Regions from separate parts of the Homo sapiens genome. Here regions 1 and 3 are each linked to region 2. The links come from fine-mapping of genetic effects on gene expression. A gene starts in region 2. Each other region holds a variant in brackets. All regions are shown on one strand. Distances are from middle to middle. Region 1 overlaps GNAI2 (G protein subunit alpha i2). Region 2 holds the start of HYAL3 (hyaluronidase 3). Region 3 overlaps SLC38A3 (solute carrier family 38 member 3).

Evidence for each region. PIP is the estimated chance that this variant, and not a neighbour inherited with it, causes the effect. A credible set is the group of variants that fine-mapping cannot tell apart.
Region 1: its variant is the best candidate, but not a certain one, in a credible set for the expression of HYAL3 in fetal neocortex (Walker 2019, PIP 0.53).
Region 3: its variant is the best candidate, but not a certain one, in a credible set for the expression of HYAL3 in whole blood (TOPMed, PIP 0.50).

What each region holds. Positions count from the first base shown.
Region 1 is chr3:50,241,604-50,252,039 of GRCh38, forward strand. All of the region lies in intron 1 of GNAI2 (G protein subunit alpha i2), which reads left to right. Among named protein-coding and RNA genes, the nearest start is that of GNAI2, 11 kb to the left of the region's middle. RefSeq lists enhancers at 215-274, 1,807-2,416, 4,036-4,751, 4,484-4,583, 4,752-5,467 and 3 more. The variant T/C (reference allele first, on the strand shown) is at 4,402.
Region 2 is chr3:50,296,255-50,302,458 of GRCh38, forward strand. HYAL3 (hyaluronidase 3) reads right to left here and starts at 3,151. Exons shown (of 4, transcript NM_003549.4): 1 at 2,959-3,151. It overlaps NAA80 (N-alpha-acetyltransferase 80, NatH catalytic subunit), which reads right to left and starts at 3,151. Exons shown (of 2, transcript NM_001200016.2): 1 at 2,959-3,151; 2 at 148-1,418. The coding sequence starts at 1,209. The coding sequence ends at 349. HYAL1 (hyaluronidase 1) reads right to left here. Exons shown (of 4, transcript NM_033159.4): 2 at 5,803-6,204; 3 at 4,734-4,823; 4 at 3,639-4,546. The coding sequence ends at 4,229. RefSeq lists an enhancer at 2,745-2,884.
Region 3 is chr3:50,214,360-50,224,795 of GRCh38, forward strand. It overlaps SLC38A3 (solute carrier family 38 member 3), which reads left to right. Exons shown (of 16, transcript NM_006841.6): 3 at 43-124; 4 at 294-409; 5 at 1,027-1,100; 6 at 1,185-1,277; 7 at 1,381-1,462; 8 at 2,879-2,961; 9 at 3,056-3,114; 10 at 3,317-3,481; 11 at 3,558-3,637; 12 at 3,911-4,011; 13 at 4,234-4,358; 14 at 4,445-4,589; 15 at 5,522-5,625; 16 at 5,714-7,127. The coding sequence ends at 5,818. Among named protein-coding and RNA genes, the nearest start is that of MIR5787, 7.9 kb to the right of the region's middle. RefSeq lists enhancers at 5,144-5,313, 5,683-6,183, 6,184-6,684. The variant A/G (reference allele first, on the strand shown) is at 6,107.

The sequences.
Region 1 (10,436 bases), 53 kb before region 2:
GGCGGGTTGGGGAGAGGAACCCCAGACAGAGGGCAGAGCAGGTGTGAGGACAGAGAGAATGAGCCGCGCTGCTGTGGCAGGAGGTGGAAGTCAAACCAGTTGCGGGACACAGGCTTCCATGTCAGAAGCCCTGAGGCAGCATCACACCACCCACTATGTGTCAGAGCCTAGGCTGCTGGATGGGGCCTGGGGATGGTCCGGGACCCCTTTGGCCCTGGGCAGCTTGTCAGCGGTTGGCCCTGGGTGGCCTGAGAGGTAGGGTCACTGAGTGCCATCACTGATGTCCCAGGCCCTTGAACATCAGTTTGCCTGGCAAGTGGCAGCAGGTAGTGCTGAGGGTGGGGTGTGGTCAGGTCCCAGCAAGGTCCCTAGGCCTCCAGCACTGCAGGGGGTGGGGCAGTAGGTGCACTTGGGGCTACTTGGGCCACAGGCAGACACACAGGTCCTGTATACTCTGCCGTTGATCTTAGTTCTTGGTCCCTGGCTGTGACTCTCTCAGTCTGTCTCTAAAAGCCACCCATTCACTTGGCGGGAACAGGATGGAGGAAGCTTTGTCCACCCAAGCTCTTAGCCACTGAGGAACCAGGGACTCCCCCCACCCCACCCACAGCAGAGGAGGAGACTGTCACCCCAGAGCCTGAGTGCTGCCTCCCCTACATCCCGTTGTGCTGTGGGGGGAGGCAGGACCGGGCAGATGGGGGCAAGGTACAGGCCAGGGAGTAGTCTCATCTTCCCAGCATCTCAGGCCAGGAATCCCAGCCTAGGAGTTGAGCGAGGAGGGGAAGGGGTCAGCAGGTTCTGGCCAGGCCACTGCTGATACACCCTGCCTAAGAGTGCTCTGCAAGGTGCTTTGGGGAAGGCAAAGGATTGGGCCCTTTGATGGTGTCCCTGGTACCTGATGCTCTCAGGCAGCCCTTCCCTCAGCTACAGGTGCAGGGTGGAACCCCGTCTGCCCAGCCCCACCCAGCCCTTCTAGCTTGAAGCTCTCGTTCTTACTAAACCCCAACCCCACCCTCACCCTGATGTTACTTCTTGGGGCTGTGGCTGCTCTTGGTGGCTGGGGAGGAAGAATCTTTCTGGAATAACCAAACATTTGCTGGGCTGGTTCTTCTGTGCCGGCCTCTGTGCACATTTACAAGGCTTGAAAGGCAGCACCACACCAGTCTGAGCAAAGGCCTAAAGGTGGGGTCATCTCAGCCTTGTTGGGGAGAAGATATCCTTATGGCTTGGAGGAATCTGGGGGCTCCAAGGCTGCTGACAGCCTCAGGATATGCAAAGGAGGTGATGGCAGCACCTACTGTGTGTGCCCCCGGCGGGAGGAGGAGGTAATGAAGTCTGCACGACATGGCAGGGCAGGGCTGGGCCTCTCGGGGAAGTGGTGTCCACACCAGAGGAAAAGGAGGAAGCAGCTGGGGGAGGAGGAGCCCAAAAGAGGAAGAGGCCAGAGGGCTGCCTGGTGCTAGGGTGGGGGTGAGAGCCCAAGGGCCCCCCAGGGCTTTGCCAACTGGAAGGGTCTAGGAGGTGAACACCTGCCCAGGCTTATCTTTGCACTCCTGTGGGCCATTCTAGTGGCGGTCACTGAGTTGGAGCCAGTCCAGGTAGCTCTGTACCTTGTCCCACCCCAGCAACCATCGGGCCCAAGATCCCAGAGAAGGTGGTGCCTTCGAGAAGGATTCCAGGCCCCTTCTTTGGCCACAGGAAGTTGTGGCTGGGAGAAGGACGCTGGCGGGAGGGCTAGCAGGAAGGCAGAGGGCTGCTCTTAGATTCCCGAGCGGCCATTGCTCTCCAAAGCCGGAAGGCCAGCCACAGGCTGAGATGAATGCCTGGAAATGCAGCAACAGCCCCGAGATGAGCTCACTCTGGGTTTCCCCTGCTGGGGGGCGGACAAAGGATCCCTGGCCTCAGCCTAAGGATTCTCCCCTACCAGCACCCACTCACTGGGTCTAGGGCTGCATTCACTGGGCCTGTTTCCCCTCAGGTGATAACCACAGCTGTCTCTGATTGAGCCTTGACTGTTGTGTGGAGCTGAATTCTTCATTATCTTGTCATATTTAATCCTGTGAGGCTGGGACTGATATTACACCCATTTCACTGATGGACAAACTGAAGCTCAGGGACTTTATGCACTTAAACAGGGAACAGAGATGTCAGGACATGACCCATGTAGTGATTAAGCGCCTGCCTCCAACTGCCATGGCCCTTTGGGAGTCTGTGCTGGCTGGAAGTAACGGATCAGGCAGGACAGCAGGCAGACGGTGTGGGTGCGTGTGTGTTCTGCCTGTGCCTATGGGCCCTGGCTTTCGGGCCTCAATTCTTCTTTTAGGAGGCGGAAAGGGAGCTGTCTGTCCTGGAAGGTGGGACCCAAGACTCTGTGTATGAAGCTTTCTACAGCCATGTGGTCATGGGGGACCCCCTCCACTCCTTTTTTTTTTTTTTTTTTTTTGAGATGGAGTCTCACTCTGTCACCCAGGCTGGAGTGCAGTGGCATGATCTCGGCTCACTGCAACCTCCGCCTCCTGGGTTCAAGCGATTCTCCTGCCTCAGCCTCCTGAGTAGCTGTGACTACAGGTACGTGCCACCACGCCCAACTAATTTTTGTATTTTTAATAGAGACGGGGTTTCACCATGTTGGTCAGGCTGGTCTCGAACTCCTGACCTCAAGTGATTCGCCTGCCTCGGCCTCCCAGAGTGCTGGGATTACAGGTGTGAGCCACTGCGCCCGGCTGCAGCTGCACCTTTTGACTTCCCACTTTTTCTCCTAGTCCGTATCCTCTCACAGTGATGCTCAAGTTATAGCTGGCAATTTAGGACTTCATTCTTTCCCTAATATTATGCTTGTTCTCCCATAAGCCCCAGTCTTAGACTGAGACCAAGCCTGGGGAAGGCTCAGAAGCTATTGAAGTCCATGGTGAGGGCCTCTGAGACTGGGAATTGTCCAGAGGAGTGAAATGAAAGCATGTTCCTTAGGGCTGCACTGTGAGCACAGGCTCAGTGCTGGGTGCACGTACGGTACTGTGTGGTGGTAGAATGTGGCCATGGTGTTGGCTGATGACTGCATGATAGTTGTTGAGGCTGGTTCCTCTTGCTCCTTGGCCTCCGAATCTCAGTGCTGTGGCCTAGTGGGGCCTTGCCCTCTCTTGTAGGGGTTCCTAGGGGTTCTGCTGTGTTGCCAGGCCAGGCCGTAAGGGACTGAGGGGGCTGAGGAAGGCTTAGGAGAGCCAGAGCAGAAGCGTCCAAGCCTCTCTGGGCCATGAAGCCATGCACAGAGCAGAGACCCGTGCATCCTCATGGCCACCCAAGACTGTGGGTCCCAGAGGGTCCAGTTCCTCACCATGAGACCTCAGACTGTCCTCTTCCCTCTCTGTATCCAGCACTAGAATCTGTGATGCTGTGATTTTTTTTTTTTTTTTCTGAGACTGAGTTTCGCTCTTGTTGCCCAGGCTAGAGTGCAGTGATGCAATCTCGGCTCACCACAACCTCCGCCTCCCAGGTTTAAGTGATTCTCCTGCCTCAGCCTCCAGAGTAGCTGGGATTACAGGCATGTGCCACCATGCCCGGCTAATTTTGTATTTTTAGTAGAGACAGGGTTTCTCCATGTTGGTCAGGCTGGTCTCGAACTCCTGACCTCAGGTGATCCGCCCACCTCAGCCTCCCAAAGTGCTGGGAATACAGGCGTGAGCCACCCCGCCCCGCCAGTGCCGTGATTCTTAGCATGGTCTCCTGGCCTGTGGACACAAGGACAGCTGCTGGCTTGGGTTGGGCCCTGAGGCAGTTTGGGGTGACTTTGAAGAGGCTACTCAGGGCAGGCCTTGGGTTTGGCACCCTCCCTCAAGGGGTACATTTCATAGATGAGGCCTAGGCTCCCGTTATCTTTCCCAGAGTCCACCGCCATGAATCAGAAGGGAAAAGAGGTCATTCAGGTGCCTTGGGAACAGCGGAGGGATGCCTGAAATGAAGAGGCCTCCAGGGAGACGGTGCCAAATGGCCCAGCTCCGCGTGATCCGCGTCTTGTCCAGCACCTCCTGGCTCCTGCACAGGCGGTACCTGGGGCCTGAGGCGCCAGCGATGAACAGGTCTGGGGCCTCCTTTATATCAGGCCAGCCTTCCTCACCCGGTGCCTGAGTTTCCCTCTGTGCAGTGGAAAGGGCCCCACTGAGGGAGACACACCTTGCCCCAGAAAGACTTTCCCATGTGTGGGCAGGACCTGAGGCCTCAGTTTCCCTAACACAGAGATCTCTGACTTGGCAGTAGGAAGCCAGGCCCTGCTTGGTAGTGCTCCCCTTTGGGCACTGTGAACCCCTGGAAGCCGCTGGAGGCAGCCGAGTGCCAGAGACTGGCGGGAGGGAGGTGTGGAGTCTGTTGGTCTGTTCAGGCATCCGTTATAGGGCCATGCCACACACA[T/C]GGGTGGGAGTGTTGCCGGTCCCTTTCAAGACCTCGAGTCCCTGCCTCCCAGTGCCGGACCCGTGCTGAGCCTTCTCGGAGGGAATGAGGGGGGCCGGGGAGCAGCACCTGGAGGAAGGAAGAGACGCCAGGGGCGGGGCTCAGAGGGCCTTTGTCTGGCGGGGTCTCTGCCCCTCCCTCCCGTTGCCATGGTTTCTGTGTGTGCCGAGTCTCTGCAGGCTGGGGGCTTCCCAGGGACGGGCTGGTGGGTGGGACACCTTCCCCAGTCGCCCCTGGCTGAGGCTGCTTTTCTGAAACAAAACGCTCCCCAGTGCTGCCCAGCCCCCACTTCCTTCCACAGTGTCTCCGGCTGCCGGGCGCCCCCTGGTGGTGGCGGGGCATGGGTCCCTAGGACTGCAGGGGACGTGGGGGTGCACGGGATCTGAGAACCACAGGCTGAGCTGGAGATGTGGCACCTTCCTGGGATAAGAGAAGGAGGTGGTGTCCGGGCTGCCTTTGTGGTGGGCTCAGGGCTACCCCCACCTGCCCCACCATATCCCACTGGGATAGGCTGGGGAGTTGTGGCAGTGTGGGCGGGCCTGGTGTTGTGGGTTTGAGCTGGGCCGCTGCCCAAGTCTACCCTGTGGTCCCAGCCGCTGCTGCTTCTGAGAATCTCTGCCCTCGGGCCTGCCACGTCAGCTGGCTGCTCTTCCTGGCCCCACGTGTTCCCACGGAGCCCACCAGTATGGGGGTTCTCTCCAGGGAGGTGTGCCTGGCTTTCTGGGTGTGTGCAGCCAGTGAGCAATGTCAGCAGTGAGGCTCCTGGGCAGGAAGGAGGCCCCAGCTGTGTAGGAGTGCCGGGTTATACTGAAGGGAAGTGACGACACAGCGGAAAGCCAACAGAGGAGCCAGTAGCTCTGACTCCTGTCCCAGGTTATGCTGAGTCCCAGCAGGGAACCACCACAGCTCTGAATCAGCCTGTTAGCCGCTGTCCATTGCTCTTCATCTGCTCTTTATCTGAAAATCTTCAGAAGCTTTCCTTCAAATGAGATGACCACAGCAGTCTTCTCTGCAGGTTGCAGGAAATGAGAGGTTTGGGGAAATCTGTACTCTTTCAAAGGGTAGATAAATAGTGATAACTTTTACCTGAATGCTCACATGTGCCCCACACTGTGAGAAGAGCTTTGCATTTAATCCTTACCCATCTCTCAGAAGGAGACAGCGTTGTCCCATTTCACAGATGAGGTGCCAGAGAAAGGGCAGGAAAGGAGCTGAAGCTCTTGAGGATCTCAGGAAGGATCAGAGTGGACATCAGGGCTGTGGCAAGTCTGGACCTCCTTCTGGGAGAGGATCTGAAAATGGGAGGCAGGCTGGCTGGCTGCTTGAGGCTTGACAGCTCTGCCCAGGGGAAACTGAAGCCAGAAAGGATAGTAGCAAGTCCCAGCCTCCCAGCAGATCAAAGCCTATTAAGGAGTTAGAGGGTCCAAGATGAACAGATGCTGTGACTTGAATGCTGGGGCCTGGACTAAGCATCAAGTGACAAGACCTGTGGGCCTGTCTCTCCTGCTGCAGGGGCCCTGCTGGTCTTGTTCACGCAGGTGGAGTGGTACTGTCTCCCTTCTCTCATCGGTTCCCTCCTCTGGGGCTCAGCACTCCCAAAGTGGAAGCAGATGTTCTAGTGCAGAGCAGCTGCCACCACCCAGCACATCACTATGATTACTGCCTACCTGCTGTGGGCCCTAACTGCGCCACAGGGCAAAGGCTGCAGAGGTTTCTTCCTTGGTGGGAAGAGGTGTGACTCAGTGGGAATGCCAAGGCCACCCCAGGGAACCTCTGCAGGCCTCTCTGGTCTTACCCAGCTGGGGACAGAGCACTTGGTGGGGCCCTCTGCGGGCAGGAGGGGCTGATTCATGCCACCTTCTATTGCCTCAGTTCCCCTACCCAGCATCTTTGCAGAAATCTGGACTCAGGCTGGACGCGGTGGCTCACGCCTGTAATCCCAGCACTTTGGGAGGCCAAAGCAGGTGGATCACTTGAGGTCAGGAGTTCGAGACCAGCCTGGCCAACATGGTGAAACCCTGTCTCTACTAAAAATACAAAAATTAGCCGGGCGTGGTGGCACATGCCTGTAGTCCCAGCTACTGGGGAGGCTGAGGCAGGAGAATTGCTTGAACCGGGAGGCAGAGGTTGAACCGGGAGGCAAAGGTTGCAGTGAGCCAAGATCATGCTATTGCACTCCAGCCTGAGCAACAGAGCGAGACTGTGTTTCAAAAAAAAAATCTGGACTCAGCCACCCCTCTGAGAGGCAGGTGCGAGGGGAGCTGGGTGTGTGCAAAACTCACAGATAAGCCTCTTGCCAGCTTATCTGGTAGGGGGCATCCCTCAGGTCCTGATGGAAAGAGGACCCAGCCAGAGATGGGGAGAGTGAAGCTACTACCCCACAGCTGCCAGGGCACTTAGCCTGTGGGCTGCCCGAGAGCTCTTCACCCCACCCATTCCACCCAGATGCCATCCTGGGGCTCCACCCACCTCTGCTCCTGTCCCCCTTCTCTGCTGGAGCTGCTCCTGGGCTGTGCCCCTGCCTCTGTCCCGTTGTTCCCCCTGCTTCCTGCCTGGCTGCCAGCACCACACCCTTGTCCTGCCACTCACTACTTCCCGCCTGAGTCACAGCTGCTGGAAAGACAAAGAGACCAGCCTGAGTCTAGGGATAGGGGCTCCATGACCTTGATTTGCTTACCTGTCAAGTGGAACTCTTTTTTCAGTGACCCCTGCTTGGGATAGAGAATGTTCTCTTAACATTTAAGAGGCCTTAGGAGGGGAAAATGAAACTTGAAGGGGACAGGGAAGTGGGCCCTCCCTGGCTGGGGCAGGGAGCAGATATCCTGGCTCCTAGTGTGACTGGCTCTGTGCTGCCTACCTCATGTCTACCAGGTCTAGCTGCTGCTAGGAAAATCAGATGCAAAGCAAGTTTGCACCCTCGTCCCTGGGCAGGGTCACGAAGCGGCCCACATCACCTACTAAGAGTGGGCAAAAGGCCAGACCCCCTCTTCACTCTCAGTGGCCAGATAGGGAAACTGATGCCTCAAGTGGGCAGGAGTCCCGAAGTCACACAAGATGGGGAAGCTTTCACCCTAGACCTCAGGTCCCCCATGCCCTGGGTAGCTTCCCTGCTGAGTCTGAGCTCGCCTGGCTCGGGACTGCATGGGGACCCATGACTTCGCATCCTTGGCCTCTGCTCCTGCAGTTCCCCCCATCCTGGCTGTGACTGGCTCCTGGTTCTTCCTCCTGCTCTGGAGGAGCCAGTGGGGAAGACAGTCAGGTAGCCACTGCTGCCCTCCCTGCCCCAGTGGGTGCTTTGAGCCCCAGGGGGATGGGCCTTAAGTGTTCAGGCATCGCTGTGAGGCTTTCCTGGGACCTTTCCCCATGTCCTCATTGGCAGGTGGAGGAGTGTTGGTATGCAGATCCTGGCTGCCCCTTTGCCATGCACAGCCCAATGGGGAGGGAGTGGTGCTGGTATATATCCCGGTACACACCCCAGTGAAGATACTGGGCCCGGCCCCTGTAGTGCCCAGGGGCTAAAGCAATAGAGGGGATTGCTGCCCCAGCCACAGCGCCCCAGCCTTCCCAGGGCCTGCACATTTGTATGTCCACAAGATTGTGCAACCATCACTGCTATCTAATTCCAGAACATAATCACCACCCTCAAAAATAAACTTCATACCCAACTAGCTGTCACTCCCCATCTCCCCAGATCCCCTCCCCTCATCCTGGAAAGCAGGCCTGGGACAGTCAGAAGCTCAGTGATTGCAGGCGCCTGATGGCATTTGTGAGGAGGGCTCAGGCCTTTCCCCTCAGGGTGGTCTCTGGCGTAGGGGGCTGAAGGTGGGCAGGGGCCTTGGCAAGGCCTGCCACCATGTCCCAATGCCTGCTGCCGCTTGTTGAGCACTGCAGACATGGCCCAGAGTCTGCCTGGGGAGCTAGGGAGTGAACCCAGTGCCAGGTGGACTGTGTGGCTCCGCTGCAGTACCAGGTACTTAGGACAGCTCTAGGAGGGACTGCACGGTGGGCAAGTGTGCTCCCTGCAGAGGGGACTCTAACCCTGTGACCTCAGCCTCCCTGGACCTCAGTTCCTTCACTGGTTAGATTGGGGTGAGAATGGAACCTACCTCCCAGGATTGCTGTGGAGATGGCAGTTGGTGGGTGTCATTGATGTAGAGCAGCATCTGGCACATGGTGGGCGCTGTTTTCATATAGCTTTGCTGTCGATATTGCCGATGTTATTGTTACTGCTTGTGTTCGTTTGTGTGTTAGCACCTTCATCCTCTGAGGTTGTTTTGACCAGCCCCAAGGGATGCTGTTGAGCTTGGCCAGAGTACCCAAGTTTGACCTCTGCACAGACCTTACTACCCACCCAGCTAAGCTGCACAGAGGAACAAACGTGCCACAGTGATCAGAATTGGGACACTGTGAATGGGGCATGGGGCACGTATTCCCGGCAAAGAGAACAGCATGAGCAGGGCCCTGGAGATAGCTAGAGGTAGTGCCTGGCAGCTGCAGGTGTGACTGGCAGTGATGGAGCAGGAGCACAGGGTCTGGGAAGGACAGCAGGGCCCAGCTGGGGGCCATTCAACCTGGAGCTCAAGACAAGCCAGCAGCAAGGGAGCAAGGTCAAGGTGAGGCCCTGCCTCCACTCCCTCTGGCCCCCAGCCAGGGAGTTGGGTGGCCCCCCTGGTCCTTCTTTACACAGACTCCCTGGGTAATACAGGCTCCTGGGCTGCACTCCTCAAGATCTGGCTCTGTTGTCTGGGATGGGACCTGGGAGTCTGCTTTTTTTTTTTTTTTTTAGACCAAGTTTCGCTCTTGTTGCCCAGGCTGGAGCGCAATGGCACAATCTCGGCTCACTGCAACCTCCACCTCCCAGGTTCAAGCGATTCTTCTGCCTCAGCCTCCCGAGCCGCTGGGATTACAGGCACCTGCCACCACGCCTGGCTAGTTTTTGTTATTTTTAGAAGAGATGGGGTTTCAACATGTTGGCCAGGCTGGTCTCGAACTCCTGACCTCAGGTGATCCACCTGCCTCAGCCTCCCAAAGTGCTGGGATTACAGGCATGAGCCACCACTCCCGGCGGAATCTGCTTTTTTAAACACCTCCCCAAGGCATTGTCCCGCAGGGTCTCAGCCACATTTTGAGAATGGCAGGGTGGACCAGGCATCATGGGTTCCCTCCACCCTCTTGCCCTTCTGAGTCCTGGCTACATGATCTTAGATCAATACTTTATTTTTCTGAGCCTCAATGTCCTCATCTGTAGAATGGGAACAGAAACAGTATCTGCTGTGACTAATACAGGAGAGAATGCAGCAAATCTCAGTACCAGCTAAAGAGAAATATGGGCCAGGGCTGTACCAGGCCAGGGAAAAGCTTGAGTCAGTATGGGCGTGTGTGGGTGTGGGTGTGTGAGATACGCCGCAGGTCTCCCAGATTCATGAGTCAGTACGCGTGTGTGTTACACTGTAGGTCTCCTAGATTCTAGCCTTCTAGCCTCCATCTGCTCAGGGCAGACCTGAGCGCAGTGAGCAGAGGGCGGGGCATTGGGCCATGTCCAGAAAGCTGAAGTGTGACGCTGTGCTCCTGCTTAGGCCCCTGGTTGCTAAGGCTCAGTGTGGGGAGAAGAAGGGCTGCTACCCTGTTGGATGGAGTATGCAGGGCATCTTCCTGCCAGCTCTGCCCAGGGCACCATATTGGCATGCACCAGCTGCACAGGTTGGCGAGCCTATGTATGTGAGAACAGGGTGGCTCCTTCATGGCTGGCCAAGTCTCCAGCCAAGACCCCCCAGGACAGTGGGGAGCCATGGTGGGCAGCAGAGCTTGTGGGAGGCAAAGGCCTGCAGAGAGTCTGCCATGGGGCACAGGTGCTCTAGGTTACCTTGACCACTGTGGCCCTGCCAGCTGCATTCCTGGTAGCTCAACTGCCCACCAGGCCCAGCTGCCTCCATCTCACGGTGCAGCTGGTGGGAAGGTTAGTTCTGCCTCCTGGGCTACAGGTGTCTGGGCATTTG
Region 2 (6,204 bases):
AGGTGGGGGGTAAAGGCAAAGGACAGGCATCCTCCCATCAATGGCCTCAGGGCCAAGGTGGATCTGGAGACTTCTGCAGGGATAAGGGACCTGCAGAAGAGGTGAGAGGTGAGGGTAGGGGGATCAACAAATAAACTGTCACAGCCATACCCAAGAGAGCCTTTATTCAGCCACACTGACGGCTCTGAGCCAGAGCCACCTCCTGGCCCCACTGGTACCCAGGAAACATGCCCAGGTTAAAGCTGCCCCCCAGGGGCTAGGGGCTGAGGTATGGTCAGTGGGCTGAGGCTTGTAGACTGTCGGGGCAGTCTATTGAACCAGAAAGACAGTTCCTTGCCCTGGATGGCCTCAGATGTCTTTTTCCATCCAGAATATGGGGCGCCCCCTCACATTTTGATATTGTGTCTCCAGCAGGCTTTTTGAAGGGGGCCCTGATGGAACTGGGGGTGAGATGGTCAGGCACTCAGGTAGGGGAGGGGGTGGTGGCAATGGAGGTCCCTTGGGACCCCTTGGGGCAGCTTGGGCAGTCAGGTTTGGGGCCTTCCTGGGTGGCCGGGGAGAGGGGGCTGTGGGGAAGGCATTAAGCAGGGTGGCAGGCAGCCGTCTGCTGGTGAAGACCAGGCCCTGCACAGGCTCACCCAGCTGGTAGCCCAGGTGGGTATAGAAGTGCACCTGGTCATGGGTGGTGAGATGCAGCTTGCGGAAGCCCCGGGCCCGAGCAAAGACCTCCAGGCCCTCCATGAGGCGGCGGCCAAAGCCACGGCCCCTCAGGGCCCGGGCCACCACCACTGTCTCCACTAAGAGGCTCTGGGGCTGGTTCAGCACCCGTGACAGGCGGGCATGGCCCACCACAACGGGTGCTGCTTCAAGTGTGGGGTGGGGGCTTAGCAGCATCAGGCAGAGGGGGAAGGCATCTGAGGACTGGCCCAGGGAGTGCAGGCGGGAGGTGCGGCTGCGGGGCCACTGATCATTGATGAGGTCAGCACAAGCATCCAGGAGCTCGGGTCGGCGGTGCACAGGCTCCAGGGTCAACTCAGCCAGGCTAGGAGCTGGGGTCTCCTCTGGCTGGTGTTCAGGATCCAGGGTAAGCTCAGTTGGACCAGGATTGAAGGTCATCTCTGGTTGGCATGTGGAATCCAGGGGCAGCTTTGGCTGGCACGCAGGATCCAGAGTCAGCTCAGCTGGGCTGGTACTCAGGATCAGCTCCATCCGGTGTGTAGGGTCTAGTGTAGGGGTCAGCTTGGCTGGGCCAGGGCTCAGAGTCAGCTCTTGCCTATGCACAGGATCCAGGTTCAGCTGAGTCAGGCTGGGAGCCAAGGTCACCTGCTGCTAGGTTGCAGGTGGCTCAGTGCCAGGCTGGAGGTTAAGACCCCAGTCTCCAGGCAGTAGCATCTCTTCAGACCACAGTGGCTCTCCTCCTGTAGATAACAGCCATGCTGGGCTGTGCCAGGAGGGAGGGTGGGGTTGGAGCAGGGAAGGGCTGACAGAGTGCAGGGGGGACCATGCATACTGGAACTGGGGAGTGGTGGGCTGCACTTTGTCCCACACTCACCTGATAGCACAGGTGACCTGGAAGAGACCCATCCCCTATAGAGCAGGGCAGATAGATCCAGGTGTCTACCCCACATTGGAGGGAGGCTGGGAGTGATGGATGAGCTGCTTAAGGCTGGGGCAGAACCTAGGAGTCCTGGCCCCAGCCTGCTCTGGCTACAAATTTGTCCTCCTCAGGACCTCCCCTCACAGGGGGTCTGTAACCACCAGGTCTATAAAACAGCCGACCCAATCTACTTGCTGGCCTTCTGTCTTCCAGTAGTCCTCCTAGTCCACCACTAGGGCATGGGATAGAAGATGCAAAGCAGACACTATACCCCCTGCTCAAACCTACCCAAGGTTCCCTCCATAGGAAAAACTGCCCGGGAGTCTTCCTGTCCCTTTCTTCTCCCTATGTTCCGAGTCTCCTCCAGCTCCCAGCCTTTTCAACTACCTGGGCTATGCCCACTGCCTTAGTGGATCCTGGGGCCCCACTCATGCACCCATCAGGCTGAGCTTTGGCCTGTCTTGACTGCCTTCCCCACCTGGAGCCCATGGCCCCCTTCCCAACTCTGCCCATCTCAGGACACTTTGGATATAGACCCAACTGTCTCCTCAGATGGGGCCCCAGCAGCACCAGCACTGGGCCTGGCCCACAGTCACACAGCAGTATTGCCTCTGCAGGCTTGGTTCCCCACTGGCTTGAGTTTCGCAGGCACCCTAGATAAGGACCACAGCTTCCTTCCTATATCCACAGGGTGTCCAACGGTCACCAGGTTGGGGGCCCAGACCTCCTGTGCCCAAACCCTACTGTTTTCCCATCTTAACCAAGGTCCTGCCGTCCGGCAGGTCTATGCTGGGGGTTTTCTAGTCGTGGGCGGGCAGCTGAGCCCCCTCCTTCTACTCACCTGCTCCAGAGGGGGCCTCCTGGCTCCCCTTACCTCTCCTGAGCTTGAGGCCAATTAAACACTGGTCAGTAACAGGCACCCCCCTCCCCTCACCTCCCACACCATTCACAGGGCTGTAAGCCCCTCACCTGCATCAGCCACCTCTGCAGCAGCCGCACCCTTTGGTCTAGAGGGAGGAAGCCCCAGGATCCGCCCCTAGGGCTGAGCCCGGGGCTTCCCCGCGGCCTTAACCCCTTCAGTGCCGACCCCACCCACTGTGGGCGGGGCTCCGGGGTCCTCAGAGAGTGGCTTCTCCGTCTCTCCCGGGCCTCGGTTTCCCCCTCCCTCCTAGTGGGTCACAGGCTGTGGAGCTTTTGGGAATGAGGACTTCGAGAGCTCGACTCTGTGGGCAGGTGTGGCTCGGCATGGTCTGGAAACGAACGACTGACGCGGGGAGGGCGTGCAGGGTGGCATGGCCACTTGGGGACCGCACGCGCGGGGTGGACCTACAGGCAGCAAATGGGAAGGGTGCGGTACTGACATGTTGATGCTGGCCTCTGGGATGTTCCGCGTCCTAGCTCCGCACAGCTGGGTATCTCACTCAGTCGCCACCTCGGACTCCTCGGTCCGACAACGTTGGCCCCCAGCGGTGCGGCGGATGTTCTGCAGCCGTCGCGTCCTGCGGCACGCCACGGCGTTCTAAGGCCTCCCAGCACCCGCGCGTCGCCGCTTAGAACCCGCCCCTGGTTTGCGCGTCACAACACCCGCCAGGCGCCGACTCAGTCTCTACCCTGGCTCCGCCCCTGCTGAGCCCCACCCCATCTCCATTTGAGTCCGCCTCCTCCCCACCCGGCCCCATACAGGCCCCTCCTCCTTCTCCTTGCGTCACAGCTTAGGTCCCGCCTCGATTTGGCTTCTTCCAGGCCCTGCCCCAGCCCAGCACGTCACTTCAGCCAGGCGCAGGCCCCGCCTCCAGCTGGCTCTGCCTCCGCCAGCCCCGCCCCAGGCTCTGACAAGTCTAGCTTCGGTTCCCGCCGGCCTCCTGCCCCAGGACAGCTTGGAAACGGTCCGATCAGGTGGGGCTTCCTCTTGAAATTTGGGCCCCACCCTGGGAAGCAGCCGCCCTTAGACTGACGTCAGATCTGGTGAGAGTGACAAGCCTTTCCTGTGCCCTTTGGATACCGGGGCCTGGACATTTTAGGCGCTCAGTAAACAGCTAAGTAAATCATGACTGCTTTATTTGCTGGACTGGTGCCTCTCAGCAGATTCAGGGGTCGTGCAGGGCTGGTTACCACAAACTCAGTAGGAGTGCAAGGGCTGTACCCCCGGAGCTAGACAGCCTGGGTTTGAATCTCAACTTCTCCCTTTTCTTGCTGTGCAACCTTGGGCAACGTGCTTACTCTCAATGTGAGTGACTCAGTTTCCTCATAGCCTCATTGTGAGGAATGAATAAGTCCACATAAAACGCTTAGCACGGGGATTGGCAAAGAGTAGGCACTCAGTGAATGTCAGCCTTTGTGATTGCTGCAGTTCAAAGACTGGCTCAGTGTCTCTGGAGGAATTGTCTATGACCTTGCCAAGTAGATGCATATGGACATGGAATGAATGGTGTCTGCTGTGGTTCTAACTCCTTATGCCACTATTCCAGTCTGTAAGTATGCATGTGTGTGCAGGGAATATGCCTGTGACAGTGGCTGAGTGTACTCTTTACTGTGACCATGACTTGTATGACTGTGCATGTATTTGAGGAAGCCCTGGCCAGACCCAGAGTGCATTAGGTTCTCAATATGTGCAACTCAGTGTGTGGCCAATCACCACATGCTCTTCCGCTCACACCACGGTGCCTGCCAGCCAGGGTAGCATCGACATTTGAACTCCACAGCCATCTGTGCCTGATCTTCAAGTGAGAGGGCACCCCGCAGGCTCAGGGGCCCACCACCAGGCGTGAGCTGGATGGAGAAACTGGCAGGGTTAAGGAGGAGGAGGGCTTTGGGGTGGCTGGTGCGGCGGACACAGCGGCCATGGCCGGAGCACAGGGCTTGACTGCAGAGAAGGGCCCCACTGGTCACGTTCAGGATGAAGGGCCCCAGTGTAGTGTCCATATACTCCTTGATGGCCTGACATGATTCCTAGGTGGGAAGGGAGGATAGCGTCAGGGACACCATGGCCATGTATGGACCCACCCAGGGCACTGAGGCACTCACCTGCTGGTCAGCCAGGACTTTGCAGGTAGAAAGGGTAAGTCAGGGTCTACCCCGTCAGCTTAATGGCCCCACCCCTCCCCCACCCCCACCCTCATGCCAGGCCTAAGCTCACCTTGGTTCTTGTATTTTCCCAGCTCACCCAGAGCACCACTCCAGCTGCCCCCTGGGCCGCACTCTCCCCCAGGCTGTGCTCCAGCTCATCCTGGGAAGGAGACAGCACAGCTCTGTGGGGCCTCCTTCCCACCATGTGGCAGACTGCTGGAACACCATTAGATGGGACAAATAATTCATAACCTTCACCTGGGGCTGCTCTGGCCATGGGACCAGAGGCAAACTGCTTCCTCCTCTAGCCTATGAATTCCATGCAGACAGGGACTACATCATTCCAATAAATGTTGAATTGCCTGTGCCTGGCACAGAACTTGGCACCAAGTGCACACTCAATGGATGTGCCCATGCGCCAGGCGCGGTGGCTCATACCTGTAATCCCAGCACTTTGGGAGGCTGAGGTGGGAGGATCACCTGAAGTCAGGAGTTCGAGACCAGCCTGGCCAACATGGTGAAACCCCATTTCTACTAAAAATACAAAAATTAGCCAGACATGTTGATGGCATGCCTGTAATCCCAACTACTTGGGAGGCTGAGGCAGGAGAATCACTTGAATCCGGAAGGTGGAGGGTGCAGGAGCTGAGATCTTGCCCCTGCACTCCAGCCTGGGTGACAGAGCAAGACTCCGTCTCAAAAAAAAAAAAAAAAAAAGGATGAATGAATGGATGAAAATGTCCCAAGGTTGGGGGCCGGGCGCGGTGGCTCACGCCTGTAATCCCAGCACTTTGGGAGGCCGAGGCGGATGGATCACGAGGTCAGGAGATTGAGACCATCCTGGCTAACACAGTGAAACCCTGACTCTACTAAAAAATACAAAAAATTAGCTGGGTGTGGTGGCGGGCGCCTGTATCCCAGCTACTCGGAGGCTGAGGCAGGAGAATGGCATGAACCCGGGAGGCAGAGCTTGCAGTGAGCCAAGATCGTGCCACTGCACTCCAGCCTGGGTGACAGAGTGAGACTCTGTCTCAAAAAAAAAAAAACGAAGAAAATGTCCCAAAGCTAAAGTACCCCAAGGCTGGACCTAATATCTGACAAGGCAGGTTGACAAGGTGGGCAGGTTACAGAAGACTCACCAGGGGCAGAAAGTGGTTTGTCGTGTCATAGAAGATCTGGACATAGGGCAGCACCGGCAGATTGGGGTCACCAGCAGCCACAGCCACACGGAATGCCTCGGCCACACGGTGTTGCACATACATCTGTGACTTCCCTGTGCCCTCCAGCACTGCGGGCATGTAGATGCTGGGATAGAGGGCACGGCTCTGGCCCCACAGCCACCCTAGCTGGTCATTTTGGGCACGGATGCCTGATGGGCACTGGCCGGTGTAGTTGGGGCTTAGAAAGTCATAGTTGTAGCAGTCAGGGAAGCCATAGAAGCCCCAGAGGCCGCGAGGACGCAGTGCCCGCCCCAGCTGGAGGGTGCCTGCCATCCAGGCCCGTGCAGCTCCCTGGAACTGGTCCTGGGCTACTGCCTCCAC
Region 3 (10,436 bases), 80 kb before region 2:
AAGGGCTGGAGCTGAGCCACCCACCCTGACCTGTGCCTACAGGGTCGAGGACCCTGCACGGAGCTGTATGGAGGGCAAGAGCTTCCTACAGAAAAGTCCCAGCAAGGAGCCACACTTCACTGACGTGAGCAGGGCAGCAACGGGTTTTAGGGGACACTGTGGGGAGCTTGGATGCAGTAATGAGGTGGTCTCTGGCAGCAGTGGGAGGCTGAGGGACAGTCAGGGGAAGGCTGCGATGCCCCTGTCCCTTGCTGACTCCTCCCACCCTCCCCGTCCCATTCTGGTGCCTGCAGTTCGAGGGGAAGACATCATTCGGGATGTCAGTGTTCAACCTCAGCAATGCCATCATGGGCAGCGGCATCCTGGGACTCGCCTATGCCATGGCCAATACGGGCATTATCCTTTTCCTGTGAGTGCCCTCAGAGAAACTTCTAAAGATAGGGGCCCTAAGCAAGCCACCAATCATGACCTCCCAGGACCCGCCAGTTCCCTGTCCCAGCATCCAGGCTGCAGTGGGTGGGCACTTCTTACACTAACAAACCGCGGCTGAAAAAAACATCCACAGCCAAACAAATATACCTCACTGCCCAGTAAACCGACTGAGGTCACAACACAGGCCGGTCTTACAGGCCAGAGACTGTCCTTTTGGCACCTTACACGTGATGGCCAAGCCCCACGGCCAGGCCTTGTGTGGGCACACGTGTCCTTTGGCTGGGGGCTCTGCCCTGAAGCCAGAATGGAAAACATGTTTGTTTCAAGGACTCAAGAGGAGGACGTGCTCAGAGGGCAGTCACAGGGACACTCTTGACCCAGAGGGCCCCTTCTGGGGTGTGTCGCACCCTGGATCAAAGGGGGTGGTGTTCATCACCCCTGGGGCCTGCTGAGCTGGCATCCATACCTGTTGGGAGTCCAGACACCCAGGTCACAGACCCTCCACCCCCAGGCCTCCCAGAGCCCCTCACCCTCTGCCAGCCACGGTAGCCCCCCAGTGGCCTCTTTTTCTTCCATCTTCCCATGTGTCCCCAGGTTCCTGTTGACAGCTGTCGCCTTGCTCTCCAGCTACTCCATCCACCTGCTACTCAAGTCCTCAGGGGTCGTGGGTGAGCCTCACACCAGCCTGGAATGGGCGGGAGCTGGTGGGTAAACTGGGACAAGCTCCTGACTTCTTGACCCTGCTCCTGCAGGCATCCGTGCCTATGAGCAGCTGGGCTACCGTGCCTTTGGGACCCCAGGAAAGCTGGCAGCAGCCCTGGCCATCACGCTCCAGAACATCGGAGGTAAGAGCAGTGGGCAGGGGCAGGCAGTAGGGAGGTGGACAGCCCTGAAAGCTGGCTGGTTGGGCTGACCTCAGCGCCTGCCTGCCCGCCCCTCTCCCCACAGCCATGTCCAGCTACCTGTACATCATCAAGTCTGAGCTGCCACTTGTCATACAGACCTTCCTGAACCTGGAGGAGAAAACCTCGTGAGCCCTGGCGTGGGGAGGGGAGGGGAGGGGTGCGGTGCAGTGAGGAGGGGTGGGGTGGGGTGGGGCTGGGTGAGGGTGGGGGGGCCCAGGCTGGGCTGGTGGGAGAGACAAGACAAAGCAGACAAGAAGCTGGTGGAGTGGGGAGAGTTGCCCGCAGAGCCAGCATTCAGTTCACACTCACTTGGGAAGCACCTTGGAGACCCCCCTCCAGAAGGGGCTTGTGGGGCTAGGGGCAGGGTGCAGCTGAGGAAGCTGGGCCTCTCCTCACCCCGGACCCAGCCTGTGAGCGTGGGAGGCTCAGGCTTAGCTCTAAGCGCCTGCTATTCCTGACCATGGGGTTGCCCCCCCCAACCAAGATATTAAGCCCAGGTGTCCCAGTTGCCTATCACTTTAGCCAGCATTGACTGGGCATCAAACGTGTTTTGTGGGACAGAGGGGACACAGCCAGGCCCTGCTCTTGACAGCCCAGCCCGAGCAAGCAGAGGGGCTGGGAGGCTGAGAGTAGCTCCGGCAAGAGGGAGAGCCAGGATTCTGCCGCTGGGGCCCTGGGCCTTTCCCAAGGAGTTGGCCTCAGGGCTTGCCTTTGAGGATGGTCCTGGCCCTTATCCCCTTGTTTCTCTGTGCCCCGTATCCATTCCTGGTGGGTAGAGGAGGGGGCCGGATGAGGCAAGGCCCAGATGCCAGAAGGAACCGCAAGGAGCACAGGTTATTGCAAGTGCCAGAAACCCCCGTGGAAAATACCACCTCCCTCTAGAACCAGGTCCCTCTTCCTCCTCCCACCCACCTCCATCCAAAGGCTGGGCCCAGACCTGTGTATCCTGAGAAAAGCAACAGCAGTGCCTACAATAGAGAGGGTCCTGAGCATGAGCTGTGTGCCAGGCTGGAACCTTAGTTCTCATGTCACCCTGAAGGACAGTACTGAAGGCACGCCCTTTGTTTTGTTTTGTTTTGTTTTGTTTTGTTTGTGAGACGGAGTCTCGCTCAGTCGCCCAGGCTGGAGTACAGTGGCACAATCTTGGCTCACTGCAACCTCTGCCTCCCGGGTTCTTGTGATTCTCCTGCCTCAGTCTCCTGAGTAGCTGAGATTATAGGCGTGTGCCACCATGCCCGGCTAATTTTTTTGTATTTTTAGTAGAGATGGGGTTTCACCATGTTGGTCAGGCTGGTCTCGAACTCCTGACCTGATGATCCACCCACCTCAGCCTCCCAAAGTGCTGGGATTACAGGCGTGAACCACCGCGCCCAGCTGGGCATGCCCATTTTGCAGATGGGGAAAGTGAGACTCAGAGCTGTGGACAAACATTCTTCAGATGTCACTCAGTGGCACCATTGGTAACTCCAGCAGAGGGAGGCAGGGGCCCCATCCCAGGCTGAATGGATTCTGACCCTGGCTCCCGACTCATGTCCCTGCAGGGACTGGTACATGAACGGGAACTACCTGGTAATCCTTGTCTCTGTCACCATCATTCTGCCCCTGGCACTGATGCGGCAGCTTGGTGAGTGTGGAAGGGTCAGAGCCTTGGAGGGGATGTTGGAGGCATACACCATGGGAGGGGCCCCAGGTCTCAGAGTGCTCCCTCCACTTTGCAGGCTACCTGGGCTACTCCAGCGGCTTCTCTCTTAGCTGCATGGTGTTCTTCCTAATTGCAGTGAGTCACCCTCCATGTTGGCTGAGAAAGCGGGCAGCGGGTCTCCTGGGGGAGTTCCCTGTCATCAGGAGGGGGCAGGTGTCTCTGGGAAGCCTGGGCCAGAAGGCAGCTCCACCAGTCCTGATCTAGATGTGGCTTCATGGTGACTTCCCAGGCAGTCCAGCCTGGGAGTCTCTGACACCCTCATCCCTCCCCACTCCAGGTCATCTACAAAAAGTTCCACGTGCCCTGCCCACTGCCCCCCAACTTCAACAACACCACAGGCAACTTCAGCCACGTGGAGATCGTGAAGGAGAAGGTGCAGCTGCAGGTCGAGCCTGAGGCTTCAGCCTTCTGCACTCCCAGCTACTTCACGCTCAACTCACAGGTTCTGACAGGTCAGGGCAAGGCGGGGGCCCAATGAGAGTGGCAGACTGCCTTGACACAGCCCCGTGTTTCCCCAGACAGCATACACCATCCCCATCATGGCCTTCGCCTTCGTCTGCCACCCCGAGGTGCTGCCCATCTATACTGAGCTCAAGGAGTAGGTGTCTGTGGCTGGGAGTGGGGGTGGGGATGCCCTGAGCTGGTTTGGGGAGAATGGATGTGGTCCTGAATGTGGAGAGGGGAGTGACAGGAGCCAAGTCACTTTATCTGAGATGTCCTTGGCAGCCATGAGAGGTGATTATGAGCAAGAAGGAGACTCCCTCAGATGCTGAATGGTGAAAGTATGGTGCCAGAGAGAGCTTGGGGCACATGGGGGTCTCCCAATGTTACCCAGCTTGTCACCAACACCCACCCCCCCACTTCCCCACAGCCCCTCCAAGAAGAAGATGCAGCACATCTCCAACCTGTCCATCGCTGTCATGTACATCATGTACTTCCTGGCTGCCCTCTTCGGCTACCTCACCTTCTACAGTACGGTGGCACCGGTGGGCAGAGGCCTAGGCTAGGCTGGGGGGAAGGGGCTGGTTGTGGCCATGGTGCCCTCCATACCGAGGCGTGTGGTGCCTGGCTGTGCCTTGCCGCTGTGGAGGTGAGTCTGCATGCCAATCCCCACAGTGTTGGGGTCCCCTAGGCAGCTCAGATCCCACCTCCTTCCTGGGGCCACCTACTGACCACCCTCCCTGCCTGCCACAGACGGGGTGGAGTCGGAGCTGCTGCACACCTACAGCAAGGTGGACCCGTTTGACGTCCTGATCCTGTGTGTGCGCGTGGCCGTGCTGACAGCAGTCACGCTCACAGTGCCCATCGTTCTGTTCCCGGTGAGCTGGTGGGCAGGTGGCTAGACTAGTGGCGGGAGGGGCTGATGGGGCCAACAGGCTGATGATTCTTCTCACCTGCCCCCCAGGTGCGCCGCGCCATCCAGCAGATGCTGTTTCCAAACCAGGAGTTCAGCTGGCTGCGGCATGTGCTTATTGCCGTTGGCCTGCTCACTTGTATCAACCTGCTGGTCATCTTTGCCCCCAACATCCTGGGCATCTTTGGGGTCATCGGTGAGGGTCTGGCCCTGCTGTGGAAGCAGGGTATTGCCCCAGAGGATTTCAACTCTGCAAATCCTGGCAGATTCCTGAGCTTACACCCTACATTAAGTGCAGTGGCCATGTGCACAGTTTGGCCTTCCATCTGAGCTTTTGTCCATAGGCTATTCTAATCCCTTTTCAGGGCTCAGAGCCACTGAGTCAGTCCCCCTTGCTGGAGGACAGGGGTGGATCCCAGGGATCAGAGGCCGCCTCAAAGGATCTCACTGGGTCTTGTCCACATTTCACATGTCAGGAAACTAAAGTTCAGAGTGATTAAAGGAGCAGCAGGGCCACACAGCTGGTGAATAGGAGCCTTGGGCTTGATTCAGCCCCAGGATCACTGGACTCCAAGTTTGATGCTCCATCCACTGCCTCATTCCAGATGGGGCTCTCAGCTGGTAGAGCAGACAATTCTGAAATGTCTTTGGGGTGATCCAACTCAGAGGACTAACAAACTCTGCCAGGACTGACAAACAGACCTGGGGGCTGAGTGTCATGGATATCACGGACAGCACTCTTCGTTCTCTATGTCCGAAATCCAACTCGAAATGAATTAAGCAGAAAGGAATCCACTGGCTCAAATAACGGAGAAGCCTTCAAGTATAGCTGCAGCCTGGAGCCCAATACCCTTAAGCCCTCATCTCTCTCCATCTCTTGATTTGCCTTTCCTCATTGCTAGCTTCATTGGCTGACATTCTTCTGACACCAACATCACCAGCCTTCTATCCTCATGGATGGAGAACAAGGGGGAGAGGCTGGTGGGCTAGAATCAGGCAGAGCTCTCCAGTGGTCTCAACATGAAACTCCCTCAACAAGGAGTGTTTGATCTCATTGAAGAGTCCACCCCCGAACCTTAGTCAGTAGGAGGATATGAGCCAGCAGTGGCCATGTCTTGTTCTTTGCAGGTGCCACATCTGCCCCATTCCTCATCTTCATCTTCCCTGCCATCTTCTACTTCCGAATCATGCCCACGGAGAAGGAGCCTGCAAGATCCACCCCCAAAATCCTGGTGCGAGGGGCCTGGAGGCCGGTGGGCTGGTATGGGGCTAAGGGAACTGCCCTGACCTCGGACCTGACCCTGACTTCTGATTCCACAGGCCCTGTGTTTTGCTATGCTTGGCTTCTTGCTGATGACCATGAGCTTGAGCTTCATCATCATTGACTGGGCCTCAGGGACCAGCCGGCATGGAGGAAACCACTAGGGTGACCCTCATCCTGTTCTGTCTACTCACCCTAGCAGCCCTGCCCAGACTCTTCAGCCCCTGCTCCCATCCAGTGGCCAGTCGGGGGAGGAGAAAGACGCGATTAACACTGTGGCATTCAGCCAGGCCCCATGTCCTCTCTGTGGAAGGTTTTTGTTCAAGAGCCAGGACCAAGGCCCTTGGGCCACTACCCTGCTAGGCTCTGGAGCTGTAGAGGCTTCCTGAACTGGGAGCAGGGTAGGGCTGTCGCCTTAGATCCCGCCCAAGCCCCTCATTCCCTCCTTGCAC[A/G]GATGCATACACTGGGGCCCAGCAGCTGCCTCCTGAGGTGACACAGCCTGTAGGAACATACACAGCTGGGATCAGCCTGCAGCCATCCCCCGACCCTGCTGCTAGGCCACGGTCTGCGCCCTGGGGCCTCATCTCCCCCAGCCCACTTGTTTTCCCCCCTTTTATTCCCTAGGCCCTTTTCAGACTCCTGGGCCCTTGGATACTCTTCTCCCATCTCCCTTCACAGGATGACACCCTCCCATACCCCATAGCTGGGGCCAGCAGGTTCTGCTGAGGGTGGGGCTGGTGTAGGGACCCCCAAGAGACCCCTGTCCTGTCCCTTCACCAGTCCTGGGGAGGCTGGGACTCCCCCTGCCACAAGCCTGGGCCACAGCTCACATTCCACTGCTGGGAGAAGAAACAGGCCGAGGCCCAGAGTGGCCTGCCCCCGGGAGCCAAAGACCCCAGTGGCCACACTGGGATAGGGTGGGGAGGCTGGCAGCCCTCTTTTATAAATATTATACATAAGACCAGCTGTGTTTTCTATTCTTGGTCTCCATGGTCCCTGGATTCCTGGAAAGTGAGGTACGGGCCAGAACATGGATGGTGATGGAGGGCCCCCGTCTCCTTGTCTGGGATGAGGGTGGGGACAGGGCAAGTCCCCCACCCACCCCACCCCCTGCCTCCCAAACTAACCAGTGGCACACTCAGACCCAGCTCTGGGCCTGGGCCAGGCTCAGCACAGACCTGCTTTCTCACGGGTTGAGGTGGGGAGGAATTAATGAGGCCCCAGGAAGTGGGACAGAGAGAGGCCTCCGGAAGGAGGCAACGTGAGGTGCATCCCCAGCAGCTTCAGGGAGGGTCTGAGCTGGGGGCAGCTGAGCCCTGAGGGAGCCCCAGGAAGGGCCCCCTGCCCTCCCCTAGCTCCCAGGCTGCCATGTCAACTCTCTGTCAATGCCCTGAGTCTGGGGACAAAAGTCCAGGAATCCTGTGCCCTGTTGGGCTGATCTTTTTATCAACAGTAAAATCCACTACGAATAAAGTGGGTTAGTAGTCCCTGTGTGTGGGGCCCCAAATGGCAAAGAGAGGTGGGAGTCCAAGGTACGGCAGGGGCTGCAAGGAAGCAGGACAGCCCCAGGTGTCCTGGCCCCGGTGAGACTGGGAAGCTGCCCACTGCCTTGGGCAGGCCTGAACCAGCTGGGATCCAGTGGGATGGAGCTGCCCAGGCCTTGGCACCAAACCCTCATTAGGAGAGACCCTGCACCAGGCTAGGCCGCCGGGGAAAGGGCTGCAGGAAAGATCCAGTTTGAATTTGCAAGGCAGCTGCCAGCTCGGGAAAACCCTGAAGAAAGAACTTCCTCAAGCCGGTGGCTGCTAGGCCCACGGCAGTGCCAGCTCAGCCGAGGGGAGCTTCCTGAGTCCTGTTCCCATCAGGCCCAGGCGCCTGACTCCAGGCTGGGGACTCACCCAGGAGCCCTGTGGCCCCAGGAAAGAGCTGGTCACTGGCCTAGAGGTAGATGCAGCGCAGTGTGTTCTGATGAGAGGGGCTGCCCTCTAGAGGTCTCGATGGGGCCATAACCTTGCCTGGAACCCTTGGCTCCTGGGCAGTGGGGGTCAATGAAGGGCAAGTCCATCCTGCAGGCAGACCTGGGGGTTTTCTCTTATACTCCCTCCATCCAAAGAAGGCTGCAGGTCAGAGCAGCAGCAGGACACCAGGTCTGGCTTCAGGCCCCTCAGACCAAGGGGATGTGCTAACAGTAGCACCCCCCATGCATACACATACACACAAATGGGGTGGGGAAGGACCCTGGGCCCTGGCCCCAAGAGGCCAGCTCTGCTTGCCCAGTCAGGCCTCCTCCAGCCTGACCATGGGCAGCAGGCTCCGGCAGGGAGGAGGCAGGTAATGTGACCACTACACTAGATTCAAGAGCCAAGTGTCCACATGACTGTTTGAAAATGAGTATCCCTTGTCCCTGGCTGTTAAATTCCAGACACTTGGCCTCCATGATCTGCAGGCCCTCAGGCATCATTAATCATTTGAGTATGTGTTGAAAATTTTTCCAGTTTTTTTCCTTTGTTACCTTTTAAAAAATTGTTCTGGGGCCGGGCATGGTGGCTCACACCTGTAATCCCAGCACTTTGGGAAGCCGAGGTGGGCAGACTACTTGAACTCAAGATTTCAAGACCAACCTGGGCAACATGGTGAAACCTCGTCTCTAAAAAAAGAAAAAAAAATTGAAAAATTAGCAGGGTGTGGTGGCTCATGCCTGTAGTCCCAGCTATTCAGGAGGCTGAGGCAGGAGGATCACTTGGGCCTGGGTGACTGAGGCTGCAGTGAGTTGTAATTGTGCTACTGCACTCCAGCCTGGGCAACAGAGCAAGACTCTGTCTCAAAAAATAAATAAACAAACAAATAGATAAATAAATAGTTCTAGGCCGGGTGTGGTGGCTCACACCTGTAATCCCGGCACTTTCGGAGGCTGAGGCAGGCGGATCACCTGAGGTCAGGAGTTCGAGACCAGCCTGACCAACATGGAGAAACCCCGTCTCTACTAAAAATACAAAAAATTAGCCAGGCATGGTGGCGCATGCCTGTAATCCCAGCTACTTGGGAGGCTGAGGCAGGAGAATCGCTTGAACCCGGGAGGTGGAGGTTGAGGTGAGCCAAGATCAAGCCATTGCACTCCAGCCTGGGCAACAAGAGCCAAACTCCATCTCAAAGAATAATAATAATAATAAATAAATAAATAGTTCTGGAAAAATTGTTCTGTTTGGAATATTGATAAGTTAGAGCAGCCTGAAGGTCCAGCACAAAGGTCTTCTATATTTCTTTTCACTGTTTTTCTTATGACTGCTTATTATAGAAAAATAAGAGCAGGAAGGGGGGCAAAAGCATGGGTCTCAGTCTCCCTGCCCAGCAGCTGCCCTTGCCCACACCCTTCTCACCTGTGTGCACAAGCACACATTTGCCTCTTGACTCATTCATTCATTCATTCAACAAGTATTTATTGACAGTTCCTACACGCCAGGCACTCATCTAGCACCTGCAAATAAAGCAGTGAACAAAGTGAAGACCCTGGCCTTCCTTGAACTTACTGTCCAGGATGGGGATTAGATCCAAAAAAGCAGCATTAAACCTAACCACTAAATTCTATCATGTGGTTAGAAGATGCTCAGTACTACAGGGAGTAAAAGCAACAAGATAAGAAAAATGGGAGGTGGGGGACGGGGGTCAGAGTGGGCCTGAGAAAGGAACTTTTTTTTTTTTGAGACAGAGTCTAGCTCTGTGGTCCAGGCTGGAGTGCAAATGGCATGATCACAGCTCACTGCCGCCTTGAATTTCTAGACTCAAGGGACCCTCCTGCCTCAGCCTCCTGAGTAGCTGGGGACTATAAGCACATGTCACCACTGCCTGCTTATTTGTATCCTATTTTTTTGTAGAGACAGGGTCTCATCATGTTTCCCAGGCTGGTTTCAAAGTCCTGGTCTCAAGCAATTCTCCCATTTTGGCCTCCCAAAATGCTGGGATTACAGGTGTGAGCCACCGTGTCAGGCATAAGTCTAAGTTTTAAATAGATTATTCCGGCTGCTGCATTAAGACTAGGCTCTGGGTGGGGAATGGGGGGCAAGGGTGACACTGACACAAGGGCTCCTGTAGTTATTCCAAATAATCATGTTGCATGTCTTAGCCCAGGTGATGGTAGAGGCAGGATGAGGCACTAGGCTTGTCCTAAAGGTAGAGGTGGCAGGCTTCCCGGATGGTTCCAGTAGGGGAGGAGAGGCAGAAGTAAGTCAAGGGTGACTCCAAGGTTGTCTAGTGATAGAGGTGCCACTGCAGGAGGCTGGAGGAGGAGCAGGCTTGGGAGAGAGATAAGTTTTGTCCATGAAGAGTTTAAAACATTGACTGGACATCGGCAGGGCATGGTGGCTCACGCCTGTAATCCCAGTACTTTGCGAGGCCGAGGCGCGTGAATCACAAGGTCAGGAGTTCGAGACCAGCCTGGCCAACATAGTGAAACCCCATCTCTACTAAAAACTACAAAAATTAGCCAGGTGTGGCACGTGCCTGCAGTCCCAGCTACTCGGGAAGCTGAGGCAGGAGAATCGCTTGAAGCCGGGAGGCGGAGGTTGCAGTGAGCCGAGACCACACCATTGCACTCCAGCCTGGGTGACAGAGTGAGACTCCGTCTAAAAAAAAAAAAAAAAAAAACATTGACTGGACATCAAAGTGCAGGTGCCGAGTCAACTGCTGGGTGTATGCGTTGAGTTCAGTAGAGTGGCCAGTGATGAAGCTTTGGATCTGGGAAGCAAAGCAAGTGGTGTTTAAAGCCATGGGATGGGAAGAAGCTAA